Linked DNA regions of Homo sapiens. The protein of the gene in region 3 purifies or fractionates together with the protein of the main gene of each other region. This does not show direct contact. Each region holds a gene or a part of one and is shown on either strand. Other genes may lie near its edges.

What was found.
Region 1: the proteins of LRRC45 (region 3) and UPP1 purify together in Homo sapiens (affinity purification with mass spectrometry; one large-scale study listed by BioGRID and IntAct). This does not show direct contact.
Region 2: the proteins of LRRC45 (region 3) and PAK6 purify together in Homo sapiens (affinity purification with mass spectrometry, with the first as the bait; one large-scale study listed by BioGRID). This does not show direct contact.

What each region holds. Positions count from the first base shown.
Region 1 is NC_000007.14:48,085,719-48,095,216, reverse strand, and holds the start of UPP1 (uridine phosphorylase 1), read right to left. Parts: upstream 5,953-9,498; 5' UTR 5,799-5,952; intron 5,030-5,798; 5' UTR 4,853-5,029; intron 455-4,852; 5' UTR 434-454; coding exon 390-433; intron 1-389. UniProt on the Homo sapiens protein: Catalyzes the reversible phosphorylytic cleavage of uridine to uracil and ribose-1-phosphate which can then be utilized as carbon and energy sources or in the rescue of pyrimidine bases for nucleotide synthesis.
Region 2 is NC_000015.10:40,235,244-40,244,724, forward strand, and holds the start of PAK6 (serine/threonine-protein kinase PAK 6), read left to right. Parts: upstream 1-3,819; 5' UTR 3,820-4,559; intron 4,560-4,619; exon of another isoform or gene 4,620-4,852; intron 4,853-5,355; 5' UTR 5,356-5,438; intron 5,439-9,481. UniProt on the Homo sapiens protein: Serine/threonine protein kinase that plays a role in the regulation of gene transcription. The kinase activity is induced by various effectors including AR or MAP2K6/MAPKK6.
Region 3 is NC_000017.11:82,022,001-82,031,290, forward strand, and holds LRRC45 (leucine-rich repeat-containing protein 45), read left to right. Parts: upstream 1-1,304; 5' UTR 1,305-1,643; coding exon 1,644-1,863; intron 1,864-2,277; coding exon 2,278-2,339; intron 2,340-2,692; coding exon 2,693-2,763; intron 2,764-2,999; coding exon 3,000-3,178; intron 3,179-3,378; coding exon 3,379-3,507; intron 3,508-4,898; coding exon 4,899-5,011; intron 5,012-5,385; coding exon 5,386-5,444; intron 5,445-5,673; coding exon 5,674-5,751; intron 5,752-6,010; coding exon 6,011-6,146; intron 6,147-6,233; coding exon 6,234-6,311; intron 6,312-6,396; coding exon 6,397-6,508; intron 6,509-6,612; coding exon 6,613-6,683; intron 6,684-7,018; coding exon of another isoform or gene 7,019-7,045; exon of another isoform or gene 7,046-7,092; coding exon 7,093-7,185; intron 7,186-7,542; coding exon 7,543-7,635; intron 7,636-8,064; coding exon 8,065-8,238; intron 8,239-8,318; coding exon 8,319-8,466; intron 8,467-8,608; coding exon 8,609-8,805; 3' UTR 8,806-9,151; downstream 9,152-9,290. Other genes in the region: CENPX (centromere protein X), read right to left, coding at 826-861. UniProt on the Homo sapiens protein: Component of the proteinaceous fiber-like linker between two centrioles, required for centrosome cohesion.

The DNA.
Region 1 (9,498 bases), on a different chromosome or scaffold from region 3:
CAGAAGTATGACAAACTGCAAAGAAATAAGAAGGCATTTAAAATTCAGAACCAAGGCAGAGCTGAGTGATAAGCAGGGGATTTTGTTTAAGAAATTGGCACATAGAGGAAAAACCTACTAGACAGAGATTTGAGCAGGGACTTGTCTGGTTTTCTGAAACAACATGTCCTAAGAATCAAGAGCTGAGGCCCCAGCACCCGACCCCGGAGGTCTTTAACCATCTAATGTACGAACCTCCTGAGTCATTAATCCCTCCAGGCCTCAGTCTCTTTCACAAGCATCAAATGTGTTAATATATGTCAAGTCCTTAGAAAAATGTGTGGCACAACATATGCTCTATAAACAACCCAACCCCACCCAACCCAACCTGGAATGAAATGGAGCCTTACTTGTGACTTTCAGCTTTCTCTGCATTGGCTCCCGTGGCCGCCATTCCGCCAACTGAGGCAGGACCCTAAGGAAAAAAAATCACAGAATGGAGTGAATCCACTCAGTAGAAACCAAGATCGTGCAGAGCCCCACTAATATGTAGAAAGTCAGTGCAATGAAGTGGAATTCCTTACACACCTGATGTAAGTGTGTGAATTGTGTGAGAAATAGAAACAGAGAGAGAGGAGAGTGTGTATGTGTGTTTATAGCATTGCTAGTTTCAGAGAGGAGGTGCTGAAAATGTGCCAAAAGCCTAAGTGGACAGGCACCTCACACCTCCAGAGAACCTGTCCCCTTTATGCCTGTAAACCCAGCACTTTGGGAGGCCAAGGTGGGTGGAGATCATGAGTTCAAGACAAGCCTGTCCAATACAGTGAAACACCATCTCTACTAAAAATACAAAAATTAGCCAGGTGTGGTGGCAGGCGCCTGTAATCCCAGCTACTCTCAGGAGGCTGAGGGAGGACAATCGCTTGAACCTGGGAGGCAGAGGTTGCAGAGCGACACTCCGTCTCAAAAAACAAAACAAAACAAAACAAAAACCTGTCCCTTATTCCCAATTTCCCAGCTCAGCAAGTCAAGACTCACTGACCCAACACACCACACCTCTCTGCCTCCCTTTTTTTAATAGAGACAGTCTCGCTCTGTCACCCAGGCTGGAGTGCAGTGGTGCCATCTCGGCTCACTGCAACCTCCGCCTCCCAGGTTCAGGCAATTCTTCTGCCTCAGCCTCCCGAGTAGCTGAGACTACAGACACACGCCACCATGTTCAGCTAATTTTTGTATTTTTAGTAGAGACAGGGTTTCACCATGTTGGGCAGGCTGTTCTCGAACTGCTGACCCCAGGTGATCCACCAGCCTCGGCCTCCCAAAGTGCTGGGATTACAGGTGTGAGCCACTGCGCCTGGCCTCTGCCTCACTTTTCTAGAATCTCAGATGCTCTTCTCCCCAGGAAGAATTGGGTCAAAGATGGGTAAAAGTTATCAGCTCCAGGGGGAGCAGCGGGGACAGGGGACCACCATAGGAGGGAGAGGGACTGAGGCTGACCTGAGTCAGCCCACGGCCCCGTCTCCACTGCAAAGTCCCATGAAGGAAAAACGTGGCGTACCTGAAGTTATTCTACTAGGGCTCAGTAGTCAGAAACCCCCAAGACCACTTCTCTGTGTGGAGAAGGGCAGGGTTTTGCCAGAGCTCTTTGAAGGAGGGTGAGACTCACGTTTTGAACTCAGTTAATAAAGAAACAAATCCCCAAATGCCCTGTAATGGCCAGGCCCCCAACTCCCTGGAAAGCCTTGCAGAGTGGGCAGGATTCATGCTGAGAGGAAGAGAGTGAAGCACTGGGTCTACAGGATGATCCAAGGCTCATAAAGACATCAGTAGGAGTCTGTGAAGTGAAGCTGCTTTCCTGAGGTCAAGCCAGTTGTTTCCACCACACGGTTCTCACCTTCGTAACTCAGCAGTCTCTTGTCACCAAGCTAAAACCCAAAAGGTCCCTTTTTGGAGAATGGGATTTATTATTACCATAATATAGTGATCATTTCCAGCAAATTTTGAATGCCAGGGAAAACTACAGTTGTTAGGTGTGGAGAAAAATGTTCCCTCCAATTGCTGCCTTAAATCTCTCCACCAGGCTTTCATTCTCCCTTAGCATTTACACAACACTTCTTTGGAAATCCCAGCCTACTGCAGTCCAGCTAAGGAGAGCTAAGAAGGGGAATAAGGTGTGGTGTTGTTGATTTTTTTTTTAATTCAACACTTTATTCTTCATTTTTTTAGAAACAGGGGGCCATGCACAGTGGCCCACGCCCCTAATCTCAGCACTTTGGGAGGCCGAGGAGGCCAGATCACTTGAGGTCAGGAGTTCAAGACCAGCCTGGCCAACATGGTGAAACTCCATCTCTACTAAAAATGCAAAAAAGTAGCTGGGTGTGGTGGCGCATGCCTGGAATCCCAGCTACTCGGGAGGCTGAGGCAGGAGAATCGCTGGAACCCAGGAGATGAAGGTTGTAGTGAGTCGAGATCATGCCACTGCACTCCAGCCTGGGTGAAAGAGCAAGACTCTGTCTCAAAAAAAAAAAAAAAAGAAACAAACAGGGTCTCACTCTGTTACCCAGGCTGGAGTGGAGTGGTGCAATCACAGCTCACTGCCGCCTCAAATTACTGGGCTCACGTGATCCTCCCACCTCAGCCTCCAAGTAGCTGGAATTACAGGCATGAGTCACAACACCAGTGTGAAGGGAATGAGTTTTAAAAGAGGTATCACACCTTGGCCCCCGGTTCACCAGGGGCCAAATGAAGGACAGTGTAGGGATGAAGCTTCATGAATAGGCAGAGCTACCTCTCCCTACACATGTGGAAGGAGGAGAGAGAAGCCAGGGCAGTGCTTCTTATCAAAAGGCACTACAGGAGGATCCCGGGGCGTAGGGGTCTGGTCATGATTTCAGGCCTTCTTCAGGATCCATTAAGCAGACCTACCGACTGAGGGAAGAAGTAGGGTTTAGGGTCAGGCAGAGTCCTGATCCCCAGGGCCAGTTTCTGTGGGGCAGGAACATTCCCCCGTAAGAGTGGCTCCTCTGAAGAATGTGCCCTCTTACAACCTCCCCTAAAACTCTGCCCCCTCCAGGCTGCTATTTTTGTCTTTAGGGGTAGGGAGCTAATGGGAGGGAGCAGCCCCCCAGTGAACCAGGCAGGGGAAGAGCTAAGAGGTGAGCTCCCTTGGGCCAGCAGCTGAGAACATCCCACTGAATCAGAGACTGCTGAGTGGCCCCCGGAAAGCTCTCCAGAGAGAATCCAACCCCGTTTGTAGAAAAGGAAACCAAGCCAAAGACAGAACTTCCCGTCTGGCCTTGTAGAGTAAGGATGTTTCTCTCTAGGTTTGGTTGCTTTTCTTTACTCTGAACCAGAGAAACCAAGGCCACATCAGCAGAGAAATCAGTTCCCTTGTCCAGTCACTGCTTTCCGCTGGCTCCTTCCTAGTGGGCTCCAGGACCAGCCTCACTCTCTCTTTCCCTTTGCAATCTTAGTACCTGCAGGATCCCCCCTCCTGGGTGTGAGTGTCCCAAGAACTAACTTCTCTCCACTTTTCAGCCCTGCACTCAGGGAGGGTCTATTTAACCACACCCACGTAGGCAGAGAAAGTTGCAGATGTCTGCAGTGCTCCAGTGGAAAAGACCCTGGTGTTGAAGATGTCAGACTGCACTGATTTTAGAAAACCTTTCTCCTAACATTGTACCACAATGTTCTCCAACTTCCGTAAGGAAATGAAATTCAGTTTCTCAACAAGTCTTCTCTCACCTCTCTAGAAAGCCATGCTCTTCGCTCCCCTCCCCACATAACAGGAGAGTTTTGCTGGTTTTACCTGGGCTGCAAATTCTACCTCCCAGGGAAATCCTAAACCTGGCTTAGGATTTGGCTCCCCAAGGAAGAGTCTTTTCGGTGATCACCTGGGGCTCTCTACCTATTACCAGCCAGATCCATCTTACTTAAAAAAAAAAAAAAACTGAAGATGTTTTTGATTTTTTTTTTTAGTTTTAACCCGTTAAACTCAAATCAGATTGGTAAGTTACTTGCATAAATAACTTAGCTTGTAAACATTTAAAATACTTTTTTGAATGAACATATTTCAAAAGCAAATGTGTGTGAGAGAGAGAGGAGAAGGAAGAAGAATGTTTGTTGTTTATCTTTAGGGAAGAGGAAAACCTAGAAGTTTCATTTTCTGTTATATATTTGATTTTTGGTTTTTGGGTTTTTTTGTTTGTTTGTTTTTACAATAAGTTTGCGTTAATTTTAAGATCAGTAAAGTCAACAAAATTCCACTTTGACAAAAAGCCCATGTAAAGAAACACTAATTTATCCTTCTTAAATGAAACATGAATGCCCACCAGTGCTGAAAGTATTGGAACCAAGAATATAATTTGTGCTCGATACACCTGTGCTGAATTAAAACGGTCTGCGGTGATGAGGTTTAATGCAGAGGACTAGAAGGTCAGGGTAGCCTCTGAAAAAAGAAATAATGTAAGAGCAGCTGAGAAATGGGGAAAGCTTGGGCCAAAATGCAGATGGGCAAACAAACTGAAAGGCGGGAGAGACAAAGGCCTGCCCTGGGAATGGCTCAGCAGCGCTTGTAGAAATCCAGAGTAAGACATTCTTTCTATTCAAGGAAGTCACAAAGTTTTTTAAAGACCCGCGGTTACAGCCAATGAATGGAACCAATGGTCTTTTTAACCAGAAGACCCCAGGAAGGCAGAAAATGAGCCAAAGAAAGGCCAGGCAGGGGACAGTGGGGAAAGGAAACAGGGATGGAGAAGCAGAGAGGGAAGTGCAGAGACAGGTCACCCAGGCGCCTGGAAACTGCCTCTATGGCCTTCACGGGAAACGGCCTCTTTCTACTCCGGATCCCAGACTGTGTTTCTTTGAAACTGACCGTCAGAGGAGAGCGGCTGGAGGCGGACAGACGTCTGCAGTGGGAGGCGCTCCAGGCGTTCCAGGCAGTGTCCTGCCGGCGAGTCACCCGCGACCGCGAGTCACCTCACCAAGCCCTGAATTGGGACAGGAGACGAGACGTGTCGACGAGCTGCGGAGTTCCTCGCTTCTCTGGGCCCTGCCAGGTCCAAGAACAGGTTGCCATATAAAAGAATCGTGAAGGGACCCCCTTCCCCATGCAAATTATGTCATATAACGCATATGCCTGTGAAGTTTCTCTGCGGAGCTGCCAGATAACTCGATGACAATATTTTATGCGGTAACATTTTGTTAAATGTTGACTCGATGGCCACTTGACGCCATCTGAACTCTGAAAGCTCGCGTAACAATCATCCTCCAAATGAAATTTTACCCCCTTCTCCCTTTAAAAGGCGGTGGGGACAAAACATCACTTCGTCACTTAAGTCACCATCTCCTTCCTCTTATCTGGGGCTCCCAGCATAGTTCTAGGGGTTCCCGCACTCCCCGCCCGGGTTTGGGCTGCGAGAAGCGCCCGCCTGCGCCCTGCGGGACCTGACCCTGCCGGCTCTGGCTTCACCCTCGCTGCGCCTCGGCCCGGTGGGCTCCCCGCCCAGAGCCCCGCGCGCTCCGTCGCCGGGACGTGGGAGAGGTAGGCACGGGGTGGACCCGAGGAAGCACATCCCGCCCGCGCGCTTCCCCCACGCCCACCTCGCTCCGCACACACCAGCCCCAGAACCTCCCGGCCGCGCGCCCGCCTCCCCGCGCAGCCGCGCCGGGCCGCTCTCTGCTCCTCTGCAGCTCACAGCCAAGGTGCACCAGAGCCTCCGTCACCGCCCCTACAGGTAAATGGGCACGTGGCCAAGGCAGGGGACGGGCTAGACCCCTGGGAAGAGAGAACGGCGGGAGCCGGGCCGCGGGCGACTCACCACTCGGCCTGCGCAGAGAGCCGCTACACCCGCGGCGCCATCCTCGCACTGCGACACCGGCGACAAACGCAATGCTCCAGGGCCGGACGAAGGGACGGCTCTCGGGAGGCTCGCAGACGGCGGGGCGCGGGTCTGTGCGCCGGAGCACTCGAATGAGGGAACCACCTGCGAGGTGAATCTCATATGGAGTCTGCGAGCGGCCCCGCCCTGCCCGGGGGTTACCGCTAGGCTCGGGCCCCGCCTGCCCTGGGCCGGCGAACTCAGCTGACCGCATCCTGGGCCATCCCGCAGACAAGCCCCGCCCGCCCCCACCTTCCTCTGCCCCTCTGGCCCCGCCTCCCCCGCCTTCCTCCTCTCCACCCTCCCGCGAAGGTCCCGGGAGGCTCAGCCCGCAATTGCTTCTCGCCTCTGCAGAGCAGCTGGGCAATTGTAAAGAACCAGCAGCCAGTTCTGTTACTCATTAAACAGCCCCTACTACAGAGGAAATCTTCTTACCCACGTGGTCCTAACCTGGGGCGGAGGAAACCGGGCTAGAAGCGGCTCTAGGACTAACCCAAGGTCACGCCGCCAGGCAGGATCCCCGGTCTGTCTGTCTGGCGGTGGCCCCGCGGCTGGGGCCAGCGGAGAGAAATGACAGCGTGGAACCAGCCCTGGCCCGGTGGTCGGGAATGTGGAGCTGGCACTGTCACTGTGTGTACCCTGGATCTCTCTGGACGGCCTCGGCTTCCCCCCTGGGGAGTTTCTCTGGGACCTTCCTGATCCTGGGAGTTCCCGCTTGCTGGGGCAAAGCCAGGAGCTCGCCCGAGGAGGGGAAGTGACTCATTCACTTCGAGTCGCAGCTAAGTGGCCGAACTGCCTCAAACCGGCGCTGCACTCTGACCCCCAGGGGCCGGACCTGCCTGCCCCCGGCCGGTGCCCACTCTCCGTCTCAGGCGTCTTTCCTGGTCCTCTCCCTGCTTCCCGAACGCGCACTCTGGTGAGAGCACAGAGCCTGGGAAAGAAGACGACCTAGAGGCCCGGGCAGCCCAGCACCTCTGTTACTTGCTTCCTAAAGGGAACTCCAGTTCCTGAGAAAACATGGGGTTGGGCCGGGAGTGGTGGCTCACGCCTGTAATCCCAGCACTTTGGAAGGCCGAGGCGGATGGATCACCTGAGGTCAGGAGTTCGAGACCAGCCTGCCCAACATGGTGAAACCCCGTCACTACTAAAAATACAAAAAATTAGCTGGACGTGGTGTCGCGTGCCTGTAATCCCAGGTACTAGGCAGGCCGAGGCAGGAGAATTGCTTGAACCCAGCGAAGGATGCAGTGAGCCGAGATCGCGCCATTGCACTCCATACTGGGTGACAAGAGTGAAACACACAAACAAATCAAGGAAGGAATTAAGGGTTTTATTGAAAATGAAAGTACGGCCAGGCGCAGTGGCTCACACCTGTAATCCCAGCACTTTGGGAGGCCGAGGCGGGTGGATTACAAAGTCAGGAGTTCAAGACCAGCCTAACCAAGATGGTGAAACCCCGTCTCTACTAAAAGTAAAAAAAAAAAAAAAACAAAAAAAAAAACCTAGCCGGTCACAGTGGCAGGTGCCTGTAATTCCAGCTACTTGGGAGGCTGAGGCAGGAGAACCACTTGAACCTGGGTGGCAGAGGTTGCAGTGAGCTGAGATCATGCCACTGCATTCCAGCCTTGGTGACACAGTGAGACGCCATCTCAAAAAAAAAAGGTAAATGAAAGTACACTCCACAGTGTGGGAGCGGGCCTGAGCGTAGGGGCTCAAAGGCCCCATTCCAGAATTTTGGGGAGTTTCAATGTCCTCCGCTTGGGGCACACACTATGTAAATGAAAGGGATGATGCAAAGTTACAAAGTCATTTACTTGGCCTACGCAGAGGCTATTTCCTGTCATAGCTAAAGTGTGAATCGGCCTTATGTTCCCTGCCTCCAGACCCTATTTTGCTGCCTCAGACTGAAGACTGAAACTGGCCTGGTTAGGAAGTTGCTATTCTCTCTCTCTGAAGGTAGATTAACAACTTAGTTTTAGTTTTGTTACCGGAAAAGGGTCCCAATCCAGACCCCAAGAGAATGTTCTTGGATCTTGTGCAAGAAAGAATTCGGGGCCAGGGTGAGTCCACAGAGTAAAGTGAAAGAAGCAAGCTTATTGAGAAAGTAAAGGAATAAAAGAATGGCAATTCCATGGGCAGGGCAGCCTCTAGGGCTGCTGGTTGGCTATTTTTATGGTTATTTCTTGATCATATACTAAATAAGGGTGGATTATTCATGAGTTTTCTAGGAATTCTTCCTTTTAGAACATATAGGGTAACTTCTAAATGTTGCCATGGTATTTATAAACTGTCATGGTGCTGGTAGGAGTGTCGTTTAGCATGAGAATGCATTGTAATTAGCGAATAATGAGCAATGAGGAAGACCAGAGGTAGTTTTCCTCACCTTGCTGGTTTTTGGCAGGTTTTGGCCAGTTTTGGCTGGCTTCTTTACTGCATCCTGTTTCATCAGCAAGGTCTTTGTAACCTGTATCTTGTGATACCACCTGCCAACCTTCTATTTCATCCTGTGACTAAGGATGCCTAACCTCCTGGGAATGCACTCCAGCAGATCTCAGCCTCATTTTACCCAGCTCCTATTCAAGATGAAGAGTCTCTGAGTCGACTCCTGCTGACATATTTCCTGACTCTACAACCCTTAGGATTAAGGGTTCCCTTGTAAAAGGGAAGGGGGAATAACCAAATAACTCACCCCTTTCTTGGAAAACTCAGGAATAATCCACCCCTTGCTTAGCACATATTCAAGAGTAATCATAAAAAATACCCACCAGCAGCCCTTGGGGATGCTCTGCCTATGGAGTAGCCACTCTTTTATTCCCTTCCTTTCTTAATAAACTTCCTTTTACTGTTCTCTGTGGACTCACCCCAAATTCTTTCTTGTAGGAGATCCAAGAACTTTCTCTAGGGCTCAGGATCAGGACGCCTTTCCAGTAAGTTTGGTGACCTGAAACGTTAGCATGGGTGACTTTATTTTTATTTTTAGTCTTGTCTTTTGGGGCCTAGTGCAAGAGCTTAGTCTAAAACAATGGCCTCCTATAATTTGTGTTTAACATTTGTCAGGTTAAAACCTTGTCAGTGTGACAAACTGGAAACAAAATTGTGTCGGGCCACTACTAAACCACACCCAAAATACCTGTGTCATCAATGTTTGCAAGCAGAGAGCAAATGCAGCCCACCAATGGCCACCTAGAGCAGCAGCTGCTAGAGGCAGGAAAGTCTGGAAGAGACCCAGGGCTTGCAGGCTCAGCCAGGATCCCCCTGCTCCTCAACAAGGTCTTTGGGCTCTTTCAGAGATGCAGTTGGCCCTGAGCTCTGAGAGGTGGGGAGGGAAGGGGCTGAGAGGCTGAAGGCCAGGCCACACCAGATAGTGACACACCACTGCCCTTCAGGTTTCCCAAATCTAAGTAACTTCAAACTCTTTGAAATTCTCCCAAAGCTAATGTGTCTACCTAAAAGAAAGATGAGACAAAATTAACATAGAGAGTTTATTTGTGCCCAGGTTGAGGACTGTAGCCCAGGACACACTTCTAAGTTGCCATGGGGAGTGCTCCAAGAACAAAAAGGAGGCTCAAGTTTTTAAAGAAAAAAGAACAACTCAGGAGATGGGGCGATTGCAGAGTTGTCAGGAATCCTCATTGGTTTA
Region 2 (9,481 bases), on a different chromosome or scaffold from region 3:
AAAACACAGGCATCTGCTGGCCTGCCCACTGCAGCAGCAGCCATACCTTTGCAGGCCGGTGGAGCCCCCCTTTCTACAGCCTGTGGAAAAAATGGTTCTAAATTTGCAGATCCTCTCATCAAATCAGGAAGTCAAGAAACATGATAGAATAGAGGAACTGGTCTCAGTTTGCACAGGCCATCAGTTTCACAAGACAGGAATCGAATATCAACAGTGGCTGATTATCACACTCAGGAATTGAAAATAATTAGAAAAAGAGGCAAAGATGCTGTGGCAATCATTGGCTGGTCCCCTTTGGTCTCCAGCACCCATTCCCCTTTGGTTTAGTAACAGCACCCTAACTTTCCTCCCTATATCGTGTGATAACAGAAGCACTCTCTCCAGGATACCCTCCCTGAGAGACAGGCATATGACCTGAGCCAGCCAATCAGACTCCTTCCCTGCAAGGATGCACTAGGTGGACAGCATGGTGGGAGCATCTCTCATCCAGGCAGGGGTGATCTGTGGGACTGCAGTCAGTCCTGTTGCTTAGAGACCCCAGGACTGCCATAGCTTCTGTCCTGGACTTGATTCTCCAGGCTAACAGAGAACCTGACTGATGCAGATTCAGGAGAGCTGGTTTGTTTAGTTCTCAGTTCCTTTCATGAAATGGCTATTATCTCTGCTAGCTACTATAGCAGAAATCTGGAAAACATGATTTTTCTTGATTTATGAAATTGTTGATGTTTCTTCAGGAATTTCCGCCTGCTTCTCATAAACTGGCAGAAACTTAGAAATGTTACATTTCTTAAAGAGAGTCATTGTAATTATTATCTGAATAAGATGATAGTGTTTTGAATTTAACGTAATAAACTCTATCTCCTGCCTTAGTGCCTTCACATCTTCATGTTGCCCCTCCCTCTAACAACATTTCTGAAAATTTGAAAGACATGAAGGAAGAAAAAGTGTTTTCCATATCCCCACATTGCCTTAAAGTGGACTTTGCAGAGGAAAATGTTCAAATATACAAGTTTTAGGTACTCTTCATAGCTCTTGGTTTTCTATTATTAGGGTTTGTTTGTTTGTTTGTTTGTTTGTTTTGAGACTGAGTCTCGCTCTGTTGCCCAGGCTGGAATGCAATGGCACAGTCTGCTCACTGCAATCTCCACCTCCCGGGTTCGAGCAATTCTCCGCCTCAGCCTCCTGAGTAGCTGAGATTACAGGTGCCCACCACCACACCCAGCTAATTTTTGTATTCTTAGTAGAGACGGGGTTTCGCCATGTTGGCCAGGCTGGTCTCGAACTCCTGACGTCAGGTGATCCACCCACCTCGGCCTCCCAAAGTGCTGGGATTACAGGCGTGTGCCACTGCGTCTGGCCTATTATTAGTTTTAAAAACATACATTCCTTTATTTTTACTTTTGTATTGTTTAAATACAACAGTACATGTTCACTGAAACAATGCAAGAGTGTAAAAAGTCCAAAGTGAAAGACCCCTCTCACCACCACTCCTATTTCCAAGGATAACCACATTGACAGTTTGCGGTTTAAACATACAGATATAGAAATATCTTTAAATAAAAAAACTTATATGAGATTATGCCATCTCATTTTCAAGTTAACATTGATAAACCTGGTCTTTTTGCTCAACTATCGTGGTCATCCTTCCTCATACATACGTATGTACATGCATACCGGTACACACATAGCTGGTACATACATACCGACTGACAAAACTCATTCATTTTAAGGCTGCAGATACTTCATTGCATGGGGATGTACCATCCTGTATAGATCTGTCACCCAATTAATCTGCCCAATTGATGCACATTTTGGTGGCTTCAAATTCTTTGCAGTTACAAACAGTGCTACCATGAATATTCTTATACAAATATCTTCAGGCCGATGTGCAACTATTTCTTAACTTGGATTCCTAGAAGTGCATTTGCTGGATCAAGTACATACACATTTTGAAATTTTGGTCAAGACTGTAAAATTGCCCTCCAAGAAGACTGTACCAATTCACTCTCCCACCTGCCATTTTTTTTTCACTGTATAATGACAGGGAGTGGTATATCCCTTTTGTTTTAGTTTGCATTTCCTGGATCATTCCTTAGTGAGACAGAGCAGAAGTGGATTATTTATAAGTTTACACACAAAATTACATTGAGATACAAAAAGAAGAAAAATACAGAGTTCCTCTCCAAAAGGAACTGATAACCTAGTTAAAGGGAAAATGTTTCATATTGACCACAAATTGAACTTTTTTTTTCTTTTGAGACAGAGTCTCGCTCTGTCGCGCAGGCTGAAGTGCAGTGGCACAATCTTGGCTCACTGCAACCTCCGCCTCCCGGGTTCAAGCAATTCTCCTGCCTCAGCCTCCCAAGTAGCTGGGATTACAGGCATGTGCCACCACGCCCAGCTAATTTTTGTATTTTTAGTGGAATGAGGTTTCACCATGTTGGCCAGGCTGGTCTCAATCTCTTGACCTCATGGTCCACCCGCCTCAGCCTCTCAAAGTGCTGGGATTACAGGCGTGAGCCACTGTGCCTGGCCACAAATTGAAATTCTTATGTTTAATGCCATGACATCTAACACTGCGTTCAATCAAAATGTCTACGCATGCAGCTTGAGACCTTTGCACAGAAGGTGCCTAGGGTCATGATTTGGGAAGATTAATCTGCCATCAGTGGAGGGGTGGATAAAAACTAATGTTTATTGGGATCAAGATGAGCAGTCTCTGTGCCAGAAACTTTATTCCTTTAATTTCCACAGCCCTGTGAGGCAGGTGAAATCATCCCCATTTTATGGATGAGGAAATTGAAGTTCAATTGGTTCAATAACATGCCAAAGGTCACTCAACTGATGAACAGTGGAGCTGAGATGCGGAAGACTGAAGACTCACAGCCTGGACTTTTAACCAAACACCACATGGCTTCGCTACAGAAGAAAGTTAGAAAGTTTTCAAAAATAAAATGTAGAGCCAAGTGCCACCTTGGATATAAGGGACTGGGGGACGGGAAGAGGCAAGAACTCCCAGGCTTCCCTCTGGCTGTCAATAGCTAGTGGGTCCTGGCAGTGGGAGCTGGGCCATCAGAGGTGGCGCCTGAAGTGGGGCAGGCACAAAATGGGTTTTCGGGCAAGCATTTGCCCAGGTGATGGTCAAAGCCACAGAAAAAAGGTGTTTTGATGGAGTGGTGGCTGAGTGTGGGGAGAGATGAGCAGGGGACCAAGCCTGGAGCTTGGGCAGCCCACGATTGGACACTAGGAGAAGAAAAGAAGCCAGTGGAGGAGACACTGAGGCTAGGGATGGGGAGGGCACTGTGGAAGGCTGGGCTCCACCTGGCGCTCCGGGGAGCTGGCAGGGGGGCACATCAAGGAGCTCAAGCTGCCTCACCAGCAAATGCCTCTGTTTCTGACCAGGGGCAATGAAATAAAGGGACCCGGTTGAGTAACTGGTTTCTGGTCCCTGCCAGCCCAGGAAGCCAGCACCCACCCTGCCTTACATCCCATGTGCCACTCTCAGCCTTCGAAGCAAAACCAGCTGAGACCAGCACCTGCCAGATCTGAATGCGCAGCTCCAAGTTCTGGGGGGTGGGGGTGGGGGTGAGCCAAGGAGGTCTGGCTTCTCTAGGGCAAGGGTAGGAAGGACAGCAGGGAGGCTCACCCTGAGCCCGGCAGGCAGCCCTTCCTCCTCCTCCCCTTCAGCAAAGAAAGGCAGATAAAAACGTGTTTTTATAAATAGCTCCAGCCCCAGCTGATTTGTAAATTCAGTGGGTTTTTTGTGTCAATGACATCACCTTCCTCCCCATGGCAACCCCCGACGATATCAAAATTGCCAAGCAACGTTGGAGCAGCTCGGCGCCCCAAACGAGCAGGTCGATGCCTGAGGATTTAATGGAGAAATCCCAAAGTGAGCCGGGGCGCGCGGTGGAGGAGGGGCGCGCCGCAGCCGGGGCCGCTGGGCCCTGATGGGCGGGAGCGGGGTGGAGCGGCCTCGCCTGCCAGGCAGCCCTGGGCGCGGGGCTCGGCGGCCACACTCTGGAGACAGCCACGGTCCAGGCAGGTGGGGGAGGGCGCTGCTCCCGTCCTGATGTGCCAGGAGCCGCCAGCAGCCATCCAGGTGACTAAGCCGGCCCACTAGCACTGAGTCACCGCCCGCCTCGAGCTGTTCTTGCTTCTCCTTTGCATCTGATTATTTTGGGAGCTGGAAACTTGGAGCTGCACCTGAGTCCCGCCCCTTCTAGCTCTCCCCTCCCTACCTTGGGCTCCAGGAAGATGGGACTTGCTGTGAGTCTGCTGCCACCCCCTAAAGATATGGAAGACGCTGTGGGGGCCAGAAGTGCCCGGGGGGCTGTGGCAGCAGGCAGAGTGCAATAGCAGATATGGTGGTCAGGCTGCCTGTGTGTGTCCTCTGGAGGTGTTGGGACAGAAGGGCAGTCTTGTCCGAGCTGACTGGAGTCCTCCCGGGCTGGCTCTGAACTCATCTCCCACGGGGATGTTTCGGTAAAGGAGTGGCTTCTGGGGTCGGAGTGGCATTTGGAGAGCGAGGCTGGATTGGCTTAGGCTGGCCTGGGCAGGTAGGTGGCTCTGTGTTGGGTGTGGACCCACGTGTGTGTGAGTGCGAGAGTGTGTAAGCCAGTGTGTGTGCCGTCCCCCTGCTGGGGACAGCAGCTGGGTCCAGCAGAGAGCTGGCTGGGGGCTTGACAGGAGTTTATCCTAACTGATGCTGGGTGGGCGCAGGCCCTGAGATGGGCGTCAGGGAGAGGGGACGCCAGACACACGGCCTGAGCAGGGTGAGGAGCAGCTGCCAGCCCCGGCAGGCCCAGGCCCTGTCTGGGTGCACAGGACAGAGACACAGCAAGATGCCCAGGTAGGAAGCCGTCCGGAGGGGCTGGCCAGGGTGAGAGCCCATCACTGGGGGGCTGGACAGCCCATCAGCTGCCCCTTCATTCTGGCAGGCCTGGGTACCAAGGAAACAGCTTCCTACCAAGAACCATGTCACTCTCTTATGCAGGGCCAGTCAGCACCCATGTGCGTCTCTGCTGAGCTCACAGGGACACATTCAGTGAGAAGGGTGCTGGCCAGGGTACGGCTTCCCCATGATCAGGACCCAGCGGGTGCCACCCTCAAGCCCCTGGTCCCCACAGGGCATGCCCCAGTGTGTGTCAGGAGGAGGGGGGAGGTCCCTTCTCCCCCACACAGCTGGCAGCTTTGCGGGCACCAGTGAGTAAGCTGCCAGAGGGAGGGAGGCTGTGTGCCCACAGTGGCAGGACAATACCAACCAGGAGCCTTCAAGAGAAGAGGCTGGGTGAGAAAAGCACTGAGGTTTTCTTTTCCTTTTTTTTTTTTTTTTTTTTTCTATTTTGCCTGAAGGGAGTGCCGCTTCCTGGGCTAGAGACAAGCACCAGCCTGCAGTGGAGAACGCAGGACCCCGCTGCCCAGAAGGAGCAGCCACGGTAAGGTCCCCACTGCCGCTGCGTGCTCCGGATTCCTGGGCTAGGGACGGGGGTGCCAAGGTGTCCAGGCTGCCTCCCACCTGGGACAGGGAGGCTAACTCCACAGCTGTGGGTTCCTGGGTCAAGGGGCTCCACTCCCCACCCGGCCTGCCACCTTCTTTCCAGATTGATTGTGAAACAGTCCAATCCCAGCTGGTCTCTGGCTCCCTAGCTAGAGGGAGAGGTGCTTGTTTCTACTCTTCCTGCCCCAGCTGGGCCAAGCCAGTGCCACCGGGACACCCCTATCCAAGGCCCCTCTCACTTTACCACCTCTGGGACATTTCCCTTGTGTATTCATTCCACAAATATTTAGGGAGCACTGCTGGGTCCCAGGCTCCAAGTCACACCCTTTGGCTGGGTTTGACCTGGCACAGATTCTGACTCTGAAACTCAGCATCAGGGCAGGTTCAGGGAGCTGCCTGGCCAAGCACGGTCACTCCTCACAGGCCTTGGTCTCCCCACCCCTGCTGCAGGGTGGATGACCTGGTCAGCTTTGGGGACATCGGGCCCAGTGAGCTCGGGTTTATAAAGCACTGGGCCCCACCGGGAAGCAAGGCTAACGTCTTGTGGTCTCCAGTTATCCTTTCCCTGGCATTGTACACCAAGAGGTTTGTGCCGTTCTGCCTGGGGTCTTCCTGAGGCTGGTTCTGGTGGGAACTGGGCTGCAGGAGGAGAGGATGAGCTTAGGAGCCGTGTGGCCCCCAGGCCTGGTGGGCCTGGGACTCAGCCCCACGGGAGCTCATCTAGCTGGGGTTGAGGCCTTTGGGGCAAGCAAGGAGTCCCCTCTGCAGGCAGGCTTCCCTGGCGGTTGTCCTGGCCCAGGCTTGGAGGTGGCACCTGGGAGCCCTAGTGACAGAGCGCCTGGTCAGGGAAGGGTCGGCACCAGAGGCAAGCCCTTCTGGGAGCAGCTGATTTGGATGGAAGCTCTGTGCACCTGAGAGGGGGAGTGTGGGGACTGCACGGCCTCTCCAGTGCCCCGAGGACAAACTGATGCTTTGTGAGTGCTCTGGGCCCTCCCGGACTTGCCAGACACAGGGAGGGTGCAGTGGGTGGGGTCTCCAGCCAAGGAAAGCCCGCTCTGTGCACAACTCCTAAGGATGACCAAAAAGTCCCCTGCCCTGGAGGAGCACATGTGCTCAGAGTCAGGAGGAACCCATAAGTGTCTCTCATGCCAGTGAATTCCCACACCTGGCTCCTGGATGAGGAGAATGACCCAGCTGTGGGGGTATCTCATGCTGCCTCACAAAAGGTGACTCTGTGCCTAGGAGTCTTCCATGCATGCAGAGCTGAGCAGGGGCTGCTGCCCAGTTGGGGTCAGAGGGGCGGAGGCTGTCGAGCACTAGGTAGACAGCAGGCCAGCAGCGGGCAGCAGGTTGGGCCAGGAGGGAGCAGAGAGTAGGGGCCAGGGCAGGCTGAGCAGGAAAGGAAAAGGCTGCCTGGGGTCCTGAGGGCTCAGGGAGGACTCCAGACAGCTGGCCTTCTTATGCCAGCCCGCTTCTGTGGGAGAGGCCCTCTGCGTAGGTGACTGGGCAGGGAAGAGGCTAAGACACTGAAAGATTGAATTCCTCACCCAAATGGCCCAGAGATGCCCACCGCACACAGTGTCCTGGGTGCAGAAGGCAGGAAGGACTCATGGGAGGCTGTCCTGTGGACTGAAGCAGAAAGTCCTTCCCGTAAGATGCGCTCGTCGCCCTGAGCAGGAAGGCCCAGGCTGCGGAAGCAGTGCCTGAGACCTGAGCAGCAGGAAGGACACCAGTAAAGCTCATCAGGAGGCATCTGGCCGCCTGCACCTACCGGGCCTCAAGGAGAGAGCTTATTTCTGGGAGCCTCCTTGGTAGAAAGAGGTGGACTAGCCAGCAGGTTGGGGAGGAGCATTGCAAATGGAAGCTTCTGAGGGCAGAATGAGTTCTGAACTTGCTGAAGCCAAGGCTGGCCCTCCTGCCCAGGGCGAGCAGTCTGCCTGGGCCTGGGAAGTTGTCCCCTTCTGAGGAGGTGCCCTCCACCCCACCAGAGCTCAGCCCTAGGGGCCAGGAAGGGCTAAAGCGAGAAGAGTGAGATGTGAGATAAAGGGGACCGTGTCTCTTCCTGGGAGGGTGTGGGGTCCAGGCAGCACCTTGTTCTGGCGCACAGGCTGCCAAGCAGATGACAGCCATGGCCTGACTACTAGGTGCAAGCACTGGTGGCAGGAAGAGGGGGTGGACAAAGCAGGACAGAGCTCTTGCCCTGGGGATGCTCATAGCCCTGCAGCAGAGCAGTGGAAAGGAAAGCTGAGCTGAGCGTGGGGCCAACCGCGCCAGAAACAAGCGGAGCCACAAAGCCACCATCAGCCCCCAGGTGGCTTCGTCCTTTTGCCAACTCTGGGTCCAACTCATCGCTGAAGTTGGCAGCCATGACCCATCCAGCCCAGATAATTTATAAATTTACACCAATACTGGGCAACGGTTCTTAACATAGAACTTTATAAAGATGGACAAAAAAGATAAGTTGAGAATGACAAACAAAGGAAGAAGCAGCTTCTATCTGCAGTTGCAGGAGGAGGTGAAGGCTCGGGGAGATAGACCAGGGCGGGAAGAGGCAGGATGGTGGTTGGTTAACATGAAGTCAGCAGCATGAGCCTCAGGCCCGGTGCTGCCTCTTCCTGGTGACTCGGGCAAGTTACTTCATGTCTCTGGGTCTCAATTTCCTCTCCTGTCCAACAGAGATAATTATAGTACCTATGAGTTAGGGTTGTTGAGAGGATTAAATAAGATAATAAGTGAATGCTCTGAATGGCATGACTGGCACATACGTACATGTTCAGCAAGAGATAACTATTATCACCGTGATGATAACTGGTGTCAGAGGAACAAAGTGCCAGGAGAGACCATACCTTGTTCGGGGGAATCAGGAAAGGCTTCACGGAGGAGGTGACTTTGAAAGAACCCTCCTCTGAGGAGAAACAAAAGCTCTCAGAATGCCCAGGAAAGCTGGGAAGAAACAATAATGCCAGGTCTATTTTTTTCCCAAATAGCATATTGTTTGTCCACTGAGGCTTTCTAAGGAATAACTTGAGACTCCTCTTTCTGGGGTCTAGACTTGGAGGTCTTGAGGACTTGAAGTGGGCTGCCCCTAGTGAAGGGATCGAGAGCCGGGCTGTGGCCCTGGCCCTACTCCTTTTGGGGACTGGAAGCTTTTTTCACATGCTGGTCCTAACTGCATGAGGAACTGTGTTCTGCTGAGCCCCATCTAAAGCATACACTTGGTGATGTGGCAGGCAGAGGGGCCAGACAAGGCCACGGCAGGCTCCTGGATCACTCTGGCAAGTAGCTTAGAAATGCCTAGTAATCGTGGGCAAGGTGCAGTGGCTCACGCCTGTAATCCCAGCACTTTGGGAGGCTGAGGTAGGCAGATCACAAGATCAAGAGATCCAGACCATCCTGGCCAACATGGTGAACCCCGTCTCTACTAAAAAATACAAAAAATTAGCTGGACGTGGTGGCGCGTGCCTGTAGTCCCAGCTACCCGGGAGGCTGAGGCAGGGGAATCGCTTGAACCCAGGAGGCGGAGGTTGTAGTGAGCTGGGATCGTGCCACTGCACTCCAGCCTGGCCACAGAGCAAGACTCTGTCTCAAAAAAAAAAAAAAAAGGCCAGTAATCGTGAGGTTCCATCTCAGAGACTTTTGTTTTCTCTTTTTTTCTTTTTATTTTTTTTTTTGAGACAGAGTTTCGCTCTTGTTGCCCAGGCTGGAGTGCAGTGGCACGATCTTGGCTCTCTGCAACCTCCGCCTCCCTGGTTCAAGCGATTCTCCTGCCTCAGCCTCCCAAGTAGGTGGGATTACAAGCACCCACCACCATGCCCGGCTGATTTTTGTATTTTTAGTAGAGATGGGGTTTCACTATGTTGGCCAGGCTAGTCTCGAACTCCTGACCTCAGGTGATCCGCCGACCTCAGCCTCCCAAAGTGCTGGGATTACAGATGTGAGCCACCACACCCAGCCTGCTTTTTCTACAAAGGATTATCTGTT
Region 3 (9,290 bases):
AAGGGCCTGAGACCCTCCCTTCCCAGGCCACAGAGGCCCACGAGGCCCTGCTGACATCGAGGAAGCTCGGTGCCCCAACCTTCAGGTAGAGCAGTAGAAAGGTTCAGAAACCACTCTGCCTGCACCGATGGGGTCCTCTGCACATGGCACCCCCAGAGAGCTCCACTTCCAGGAACAGGGAAGAGCAGGGCACGCCCTCCAGCCTGGGCGGATCCTGGCTCAGACGGCCTAGGTCTGACCCTAGCCCTGCTGAGTCACTTAACGCCCCCGTGCCTCAGTTTCTCCACTGGCAGGTGGGGTTAATCCCTGTCAAGTGTGTGTAACGTGGAGCACCGAAGAAACCACGCGTTCCTAGCCCAGTGCTGGCGCCCACCGGGGAGCAAACAAAAGGGAAACCACTGTGCCTGGCGGCTGGGGTAGGTCCTGCCGGCTCCTCGGGCTGGACGATCTCACTGTCCCCGTCCTGGGGCCTCATCTCCCCTTAACAAAAGACCCCAGGCTCAGGGCGCAGGGCGGCGGCCCAGCTCCTCCTCTCTCTTCGCCGGCTTGGACTCCGCCGTGACGGCGCCCACCCCTGCCTGTTTCTGCAGACCCTCTCCACCTTCCCGCAGCCCCGGCTGCTCCACGCCCCCTCCTACCAGCTGCGAGACACCAGCCCACGAGGGCGCGGGGCGCGCGGCCCGGCCGGAGATGGAGTCTGAGAACGGGCCCAACCTCAAAGGCACAGGGGGCGGCGCGGGGGCTGGCGTCTGGCCCTCACAGTGTCACGCGTGAGGTCGGGACGGAGCGTCCGCGCCTGCCTAGCCCCTGCCCTCCGGCCCTCACCTTCCGGAAGCCGGATCCAGCTCCTGCTCCCTCCATGACCGCAGCCTCAACGCGCGCCCACCGGAACCCCGCCCCGCGCCTCCAGCCAATGAGACCGGAGCGCGCCCCCGGAGCCCCGCCCCGCGCCCCTAGCCAATGAGTCCGAAGCGCCTGCTCTCGGAGCCCCGCCCCCACGTCTCAGCCAATGAGCCCGGAGCGCGCCCTCCAGCAGCCCCTCCCTCACGTCCCGCAGCCAATGAACTTGGAACGCGCCCTCCCGGGGCACCACCCTCACGACCCTCAGCCAATGAGCCCGGAGCATGCCCTCCCGGGGCCCCACCCTCATGCCCCTAGCCAATGAACCTGGAGCGCGCTGCCCCCTCTCAGCTTGCGGCCCGAAAGGCGCGCCAGTTCCTTTGTTCTCATTGGCCCGCACCAAGCGCTGCCTGCGCAGAGCCTGCTAGGAGTTGTAGTTCCCGCGGCCTCTCCCGGCGCGCCTTGTTCTTCCTGGATACTGAGGCCCCGACGCGGCTGTCGCGAGGGCGGGGGTCGGGGCTGCAGGCGGGGCAGGGCTGGGTGGGGGCGCGCGACGCACCTGCCTGCTTCCTGCACGGGTGGTCCCCAAGCACTGCGGGGCCCCAGCCCAAAGCGGACCTTGACTACCGCCCAGCCCCGCGCTCCCAGGACCTCCCGCCCGCGGAGCCCACTCGGATTGCTCTCCGCCCGGGTCGGCGGAGGCCCCGTCTCCTGTACCCGGCGCTGGGACTGCTCCGCACCGCGCGGCTCCCTTTCAGCAGCTGCGGGAGCATGCGGAGGAGGCCCTGCCGGCCCCGCGGGTCATGGAGGAGTTCCGGCGCTCCTACAGCCGCCTGTGCAGGGAGAGTGGGGCCGAGCCCCAGGAGGCTGTCCTGCAGCAGCTGCACCAGCTTCCCAGGGGCCGGCTGGACCTGGCCACGCAAAGCCTGACGGTGGAGACCTGCAGGGCCCTGGGCAAGCTGCTGCCGAGGGAGACGCTGTGCACGGAGCTGGTCCTGAGTGACTGCATGCTCAGCGAGGAAGGTGGGCAGGCGCGGCGGGGTGGATCCCTCTGCTCCTTAGCTGCCCACACCATTGCCTCGGCAGCCCGAGGTCGCTTCCTCTCCAGGCTCTCCAATTTCTGTGCCGTAGTTAAAGCGAGCAGGGGCGCCCCTTCCTGCACCTGGGAGTAGAGGGCAGTTCCTCTGTATGACGGGGGAGAGGCCTTAACATTCGCGGTCTTACCTGGTTCCCCGCGTGCAGAGCCGGCTTGGTGCCTGGCAGGGGCTGCAGGTGTTTCAAACATGACTTCGCAGCGAGACTCTTGGCCAGCGCCAACCCAGACCATCGGGACAGTTGTCCCTTCCTGGGTCTAGGGAGCTGCCCTGAAAAGGGGCCCACGGGGAGGGCCTTGGGGTCAGCAGGGGCAGAGAGTGACCGCCGGCCCCCCTTACACAGGGGCCACACTGCTGCTCCGAGGCCTGTGTGCCAACACCGTGCTGCGCTTTCTGGACTTAAAGGTGAGATACCTGCACTCTTGAGTGTCCGAGTGTGCCACCCAAGGGCAAGAGGAGAGGTGGAAGATGCCAGGTCTCGGGGGCCTGGGGTCTGGGCAGGTGGCTGGAAGCTGTCTGTGAGTCCCCAGGCCGCTCTCTGATGGCCTCCTGTGTGTGACCATCTCCAGAGCAAGAGTTCACATTGGCAAACAAGCCGGCCCTTGGAAGCCCCCTGAAGACAGGGAGCCCAGGAGCTGAGGAAGGCTGCAGGGTGCACCCCAGGCTTGTCCCCTGGCTGACCAAGGCCCTTGGGGCATGGGCGGGAATTCAGAGCCAGTCAGGGCACGCGAGTGACTACCGGCCTGTTTCTCTCCTAGGGCAACAACCTTCGGGCTGCAGGGGCCGAGGCTCTGGGAAAACTCCTCCAACAGAACAAGTCCATTCAGAGGTGGGTGGTGGTCCCGACCCCAGGCCCTGTCTCTGTGTGGTTGAGGATTGGCCCCGAGCACATGCTTCTGCAGCCCAAGAGTTCCCCATTGCCAGGTGCCCATGTTTCACATACGTTGGCAGGGGTAGGCAGAGGCTCCGGCCCATCAGACCCCAAGCCCACACCCGTCCCCAAGCCCTGGACCCCACGGGCTAGGCAGTCCCCTAGGTGAACACTGGCTTCTGCCCCTCCTGCAGCCTCACGCTGGAGTGGAACAGCCTGGGCACGTGGGACGATGCCTTCGCCACCTTCTGCGGGGGCCTGGCGGCCAACGGCGCCCTGCAGCGGCTGGACCTCCGCAACAACCAGATCAGTCACAAGGGCGCGGAGGAGCTGGCCCTAGCCCTGAAGGGCAACACCACCCTCCAGCAGCTGGGTGAGGCCTCCCAGGCGCCCTCAGGCTCCCTCATCCCTCTGAGGCTGCCTCTGCTCTGGGAAGTGAGGGGCTAGGGGACTGGCCTGTGCTCCTGCTCTGTTGATGACTGCAAGGCAGTGCCCCCTAGGGAAGCACCCCGGCCAGGCCAGCTCCCCCTCTGCCAGGTGCATTCTGTCTGGTGACTACAGGTTTCCTTCCAGACCTGCGCTGGAATAACGTTGGCCTCCTGGGGGGCCGGGCCCTCATGAACTGTCTCCCCAGCAACAGAACCCTGTGGAGACTGGACCTGGCTGGGAACAACATCCCTGGAGACGTCCTCAGAGCCGTGGGTACGGTGCAGGGCTGTGTGGAGTGACGCGTGAGCCTTTGACAGAGGCCTGTCCACCGAGGGCGGGGTGCCGGGCTCAGGACGGGAACTGATGAGGAGAGCAGCCTGAGAGCCCAGGGGAAGCAGGAAGGAGCGGAGGGGTCGTGGGGCACCTGTTTGGCACTTGAATGGCGTTCGCCACACATGGGCACTGTCCGAGGCGCCCTGTGTACTTGCTGAGTTCTTAGGACCTGTGCAGTGGAGGGTGCCCGTTTCACAGCTGGGGAAGCTGAGGCCGTGTGGCTCACAGTCCTGGCCTTGGTGGCTTTGCTGATGCTTCGGGTGGCCCAGGTCTTGGCCTTGGCCAGGAAGGCTCCCTGGTCACCCTGAGTCTGTGGCCCTGCATGTGAGTCAGGTGAGGTGGGGCCCCCTGGCTTGTGCTGGCCTCCACACATTCCCTCCCACCAGCGACCCCGAATCCTTGCAGCTGATGTCTCAGCCTCAGGCCCCAGTGCCCCAGACTCAGCTGGGGACTTTGCCAGGCCCCCCGTACTCCCTAATCCGCGCACAGCGGCAGCCTCTTCCAGCCCCTGTGCTGAGGGCTCATCCCTCCTGCTGGTTCTGCCTGGCCTCTGACTCCAGCTGCGCCGTCCCTGGCTTCGCCTCGGCACTGCCCTGGTTGTTGTCATCCCTCCTGACCTCTGCCCCCTCGCCACATGCTACCCAGATCTTTCCAGAACTGAGCTGGGCACAGCATTTGCCTCAGCATTGTGCAGTGCCCCTTGACCTTTGGGATGGTGGCCAGATGCCCCAGGATGGCCCTTGCCTTTTGCGGTGGAGCAGCTCCCACCACCTCTGCCCCACATGTGCACGCGCTCCCCAACACCAGGCGGCTCTTGCTCACAGCCCGAACCCCACAAAGCACTTCCACCCCCATGCACTGAGGGGGCACCCCTGACTTGCCGGGTGAGACGCTGCCCCACACGGCATAGATTCCCAAGCAGCCAGCCGCTGGGTGCAGGGCTGGTGGCCACCAGCTACTCCTGAGGCTAAGCAGCCCCGGGGTGACACAGCTCCTTTGTGTGTGTGTGTGTGTGTGTGTGTGTGTGTGTGTGACTGAGTTTCACTCAGTCACCCAGGCTGGAGTGCAGTGGCGCAATCTCGGCTCACTGCAACCTCCACCTCCCGGTTCAAGCGATTTTCCTGCCTCAGCCTCCCGAGTACCTGGGATTACAGGTGTGCGCTACCATGCCCAGCTACTTTTTTGTATTTTTAGTACAGATGGGGTTTCACCATGTTGGCCAGGCTGGTCTCGAACCCCTGACCTCAGGTGATCCACCCACCTCGACCTCCCAAAGTGCTGGGATTCCAGGCATGAGCCCCTGTGCCCAGCTGACACAGCTCCTTCTGCAGAGCAAGCCATGGGCCACAGCCAGGACCGGCTCACCACCTTCCAGGAGAACCAAGCCCGCACTCACGTCCTCAGCAAGGAGGTCCAGCACCTCCGGGAGGAGAAGTCCAAGCAGGTGAGGATGGCGCCTTCACTGACCTTGGAGCTGCTTATGGCTGGAGGGCCTGGCCACGTCCTTCCTCCCTCAGCCCCGTGGTCTGCCCATCTTCCCTTCCTCGGGGCCCTGGAGCCTCTCTGAGTGGCTGGTACCAGGAAGGAGGGGCGGCCTCCTGGTCTGATCTGCAGGTGGACTTCCTTGGGGAGCTGGCGTCTGAGCCCTGAGGCCTCGCTCTGCAGGGGCCACCCTTCCTGTGAAGGAGACAGGGCACCGTGGGTGGAACCCTCCGCTGCCTTGCCACATTGGTGGGCGCTGGCTCTCCTTCCCCCTGAGAAGGTCAGGTGGACAGGCTGCAGGTGCCCTGACAGGGCTGCGGCTGTCTCTGTCCCCAGTTCCTCGACTTGATGGAGACTATTGATAAGCAGCGAGAAGAGATGGCCAAGAGCAGCAGGTGAGCGGGCCCAGGGCAGGGGCAGGGTGAGGCTTCAGGGATCAGGTCCTGGCTCAGACTCAGATGGGACCAACCTGAGCCCACGAGTGAGGCCACGAGGAGGTCGCTGGAGGCTCAGTGCCCAGGCGACCATAGATGCTTAAGGAACAGCAGCAGCTACCGAGGCCAGAGGGGTATGGGAGCGCTCTGGGGTTTGGGTTACTCTCTGCACCCTCCTCTCTGCCCACAGGGCGTCGGCAGCCCGTGTAGGGCAGCTTCAGGAAGCCCTGAATGAGAGGCACTCCATCATCAACGCTCTCAAGGCCAAGTAAGTGGGGGGTGGCCTCAGGATACTTCAGAGACGTGCCCACAGGGCAGAGAAAGGTGGTGTGAACCTGTGTGCAAGTCCTGTTTGCAAAGCAGAGGTGGGAAATGGTGAGGCTGGGGCAGTAACCCAGAAGCCTTCCTGGAGGAGGCGGGTGCTGGCTGGGGTTGACTAGGTGCCCAGCAACAGTGAAAGCAGCGAGGCCTTTATAAGGCAAGTGAAACTCCAACCGGGGCGGGGGTGCTGCCCCTCCTTTCTGCAGGCTGCAGATGACAGAGGCCGCCCTGGCTCTGTCGGAGCAGAAGGCCCAGGACCTGGGGGAGCTCCTGGCCACAGCGGAGCAGGAGCAGCTGAGCCTGTCACAGAGGCAGGCCAAGGAGCTCAAGCTGGAGCAGCAGGTGGGTGGGCAGGGCTTGAGAGGGGTGGGCCAAGGGGTGCGTGGCGGCTTCGTGACCCTCACTACCCATACCCCGTTCCCCTCCCAGGAAGCTGCAGAGCGGGAGTCTAAACTCCTCAGAGACTTGTCTGCTGCCAATGAAAAGAACCTGCTTCTGCAAAACCAGGTAGCTGTGGTGGATGGAGCCAGGGAGCCCAGGGTGGGCGCGGCAGGGCTGGGCTGCAGCTTCCCTCCCTGGTGCCGGCTTTCAGGTAGACGAGTTGGAGCGGAAGTTCAGGTGTCAGCAGGAGCAGCTGTTCCAGACCAGGCAGGAGATGACCAGCATGTCAGCTGAGCTGAAGATGCGGGCCATCCAGGCCGAGGGTGGGCACGGGCAGGCCTGCTGTGGAGGGGCCTGGGGATGGGCACCGGGGGACGGGGGCCCCCAGGGGATGCTCACGCATACTCTGCCCACCCTGGGCTTCCAGAGCGCCTGGACATGGAGAAGAGAAGATGCAGACAGAGCCTGGAGGACTCCGAAAGCCTGCGCATCAAGGAGGTGCCCTCTTCGTTGGCCTCTAATGCGCCTCAGTCTCTGGTCTTGGTGTCACGCAGGTGTCCCCAAAGCACACACCTGGTGGGAGCTTCCCTTGCCAACCTTGGGTCACTGGGTGGCCGTATTTTGCCAGCCTGAGCGGATGTCAGACCCAGAACCTCCTATTGGGGGCGGCGGGGGGACCCCGGCAATGTCTGAGCCGTAGTACAGGCTGCCGTTGAAGAGACACCAAGGCCCACTCGTTCAGGGTGTGCATGCTGCGGTAGTTTCCTGCTAGGCCATCTGAGGCAGTGCTTTCTCAGAATGAACAAGGTTCTCAAGAGACACCTGCCTTTCAGGGTGGGGAGTCCGTGAGGAGAAGGTAGGGAGGCCCGCTCTCCACTCTGGCCCCACAATCCCTGCCCCTGAGCAGGTGGAGCATATGACCCGTCACCTGGAGGAGAGTGAGAAGGCCATGCAGGAGCGGGTGCAGAGGCTGGAGGCGGCGCGGCTGTCCCTGGAGGAGGTGAGTGCCCACCAGGCAGGGCCAAGCTCTGCCTTAGTCCTGGGCTGAACAAGGCAGGGGCCCCTGGTGTTCGCCGCCTCAGGACCAGAGACCTCTTCCTGTTCCCAGAGGCTCATAGGCCCCACCTTGGGGACCCACCCACCAGTGTGCCCAAGAAGCTAAAGGGACTTAGGTGGCATTCGGACTTCCTTGGCCTTAGGAACCTTGCCCAGCGAGCTAGGTGGCAGAGCAGCTGCGTGGCCCTCAGGAGGCTGGCAGAGAGGAGCCCCCCTGGCTGGGGTTGGCTGGATGGGCCAGAGAGAGAAGGGCCCTGGGCCAGGGACAGGAGAACGGGCTGGCAGGTGGCCATCTGTGCAGGAGCTGAGCCGAGTGAAAGCAGCGGCACTCAGCGAGCGTGGCCAGGCTGAGGAGGAGCTGATCAAGGCCAAGAGCCAGGCCCGCCTGGAGGAGGTGAGCCACACATGTCCGCCACCCTCCGGGGGAGCCAGGCTGCCCGGCATTGCGGCCCGCATGCAGACTCCAGAGCTTCGGTCTGAGTGGGGAGGCGGGAGTGTGGTGTTGAGGTCAGATGAGCACACCCTGGACACTGGTGGGTCCGCTTCAGCCTTGGATCAGGGCCTGAGACGGTGGAGAGGTTTGGCCCATCTCTGCAGCCTGTGACTACACGCATGGATGGATGGGAGGGGTGGTGTGACCGAAGAGGGAGGAGGAGAGCCCAGAGGGCATCTGGAGGAGGTGGCTGCCAGGGGAGCGGGTTCAGAGTCATAGTAACTAGAGCAGCCAGTCCTGCAGAGAGGTGGGGTCGTGCCCGTGCAGACATTCCCTCAGCTGAGCTCAGGCTGAGCCCCTCATGCTTCGTGGCGGCCCCTGTGCTCACAGCAACAGCGCCTGGCTCACCTGGAGGACAAGCTGAGACTGCTGGCGCAGGCACGGGACGAGGCGCAGGGCGCTTGCCTACAGCAGAAGCAGGTGGTGGCCGAGGCCCAGACCCGGGTCAGCCAGCTGGGCCTGCAAGTTGAGGGCCTGCGGCGGCGCCTGGAAGAGCTGCAGCAGGTAGGCGGGGCTCCGGTGGGGGGCCCCGGGCGTGCTAGCCCCCAACCCTCGCCTCACTCCCCAGCCTTCGTGCCTGGCAGGAGCTGAGCCTCAAGGACCAGGAAAGGGTGGCCGAGGTGAGCAGGGTGCGCGTGGAGCTGCAGGAGCAGAACGGCCGGCTGCAGGCGGAGCTGGCGGCTCAGGAGGCGCTGAGGGAGAAGGCGGCGGCCCTGGAGCGCCAGCTGAAAGGTGAGCCAGACCCTTGTCCTCCCGCCGCCCACTGGTGGGACGTGAGGCCAGCCAGAGAGCGGGGCTGGCCAGGTCTCCCGTGCTGAGGCCGTGCCACGGTGCGCTGGGGCTGCGTCCGCTCACTGCGCTCCTTGCCCTGCAGTGATGGCGAGCGACCACCGAGAGGCGCTGCTGGACAGGGAGAGCGAGAACGCGTCTCTCCGGGAGAAGCTGCGGCTCCGGGAGGCGGAGATCGCCCGCATCCGGGACGAGGAGGCCCAGAGGGCGAGCTTCCTGCAGAACGCCGTCCTGGCTTACGTGCAGGCGTCCCCCGTGAGGACCCTGAGCCCCCCAAAGTGAGACAGGCCGGGAGGACCCGGGCGCAGTAGGAGTGCATCAGGCGGCGCCCGAGATGGACCAGGGGCTGCGTCCCGCCCGCGCCGCCTCTTTGAGACCCGGGTCGTCTGTTCCACGCGGCGGTTGCGGCGACTGTTGGTGGTGTCGCGGCTGCGGGGGAACCCCGTGGGAGGCGCCTGGGAAGGGCTCCCTACCGGCCCCTTCTTCCCGGTCGACGCCACGTGGGAGCACACCGGGAAGGGGTCCCGCGGGCGCGTCTCCCCCTCGCCTTTTGCGATGTCACCGTGAACGCTGCGGCCGCCTGCGCGCGGCGGGGTTTGGAAATACAGCGCGTTTGCACTTTGTGATACATTCTGGCCCCGCCTCTCCCTCCAAACGCGCGACCGTCCGTGCCTCTCCAAACGCGCGGCCCTCTGCCCCCAGCCCTGCAGGGAGGGCCTGCCGGGGTGCGGCTGTTCGCCCCTCCTCGCCGCTGCCTTGAAGGGACG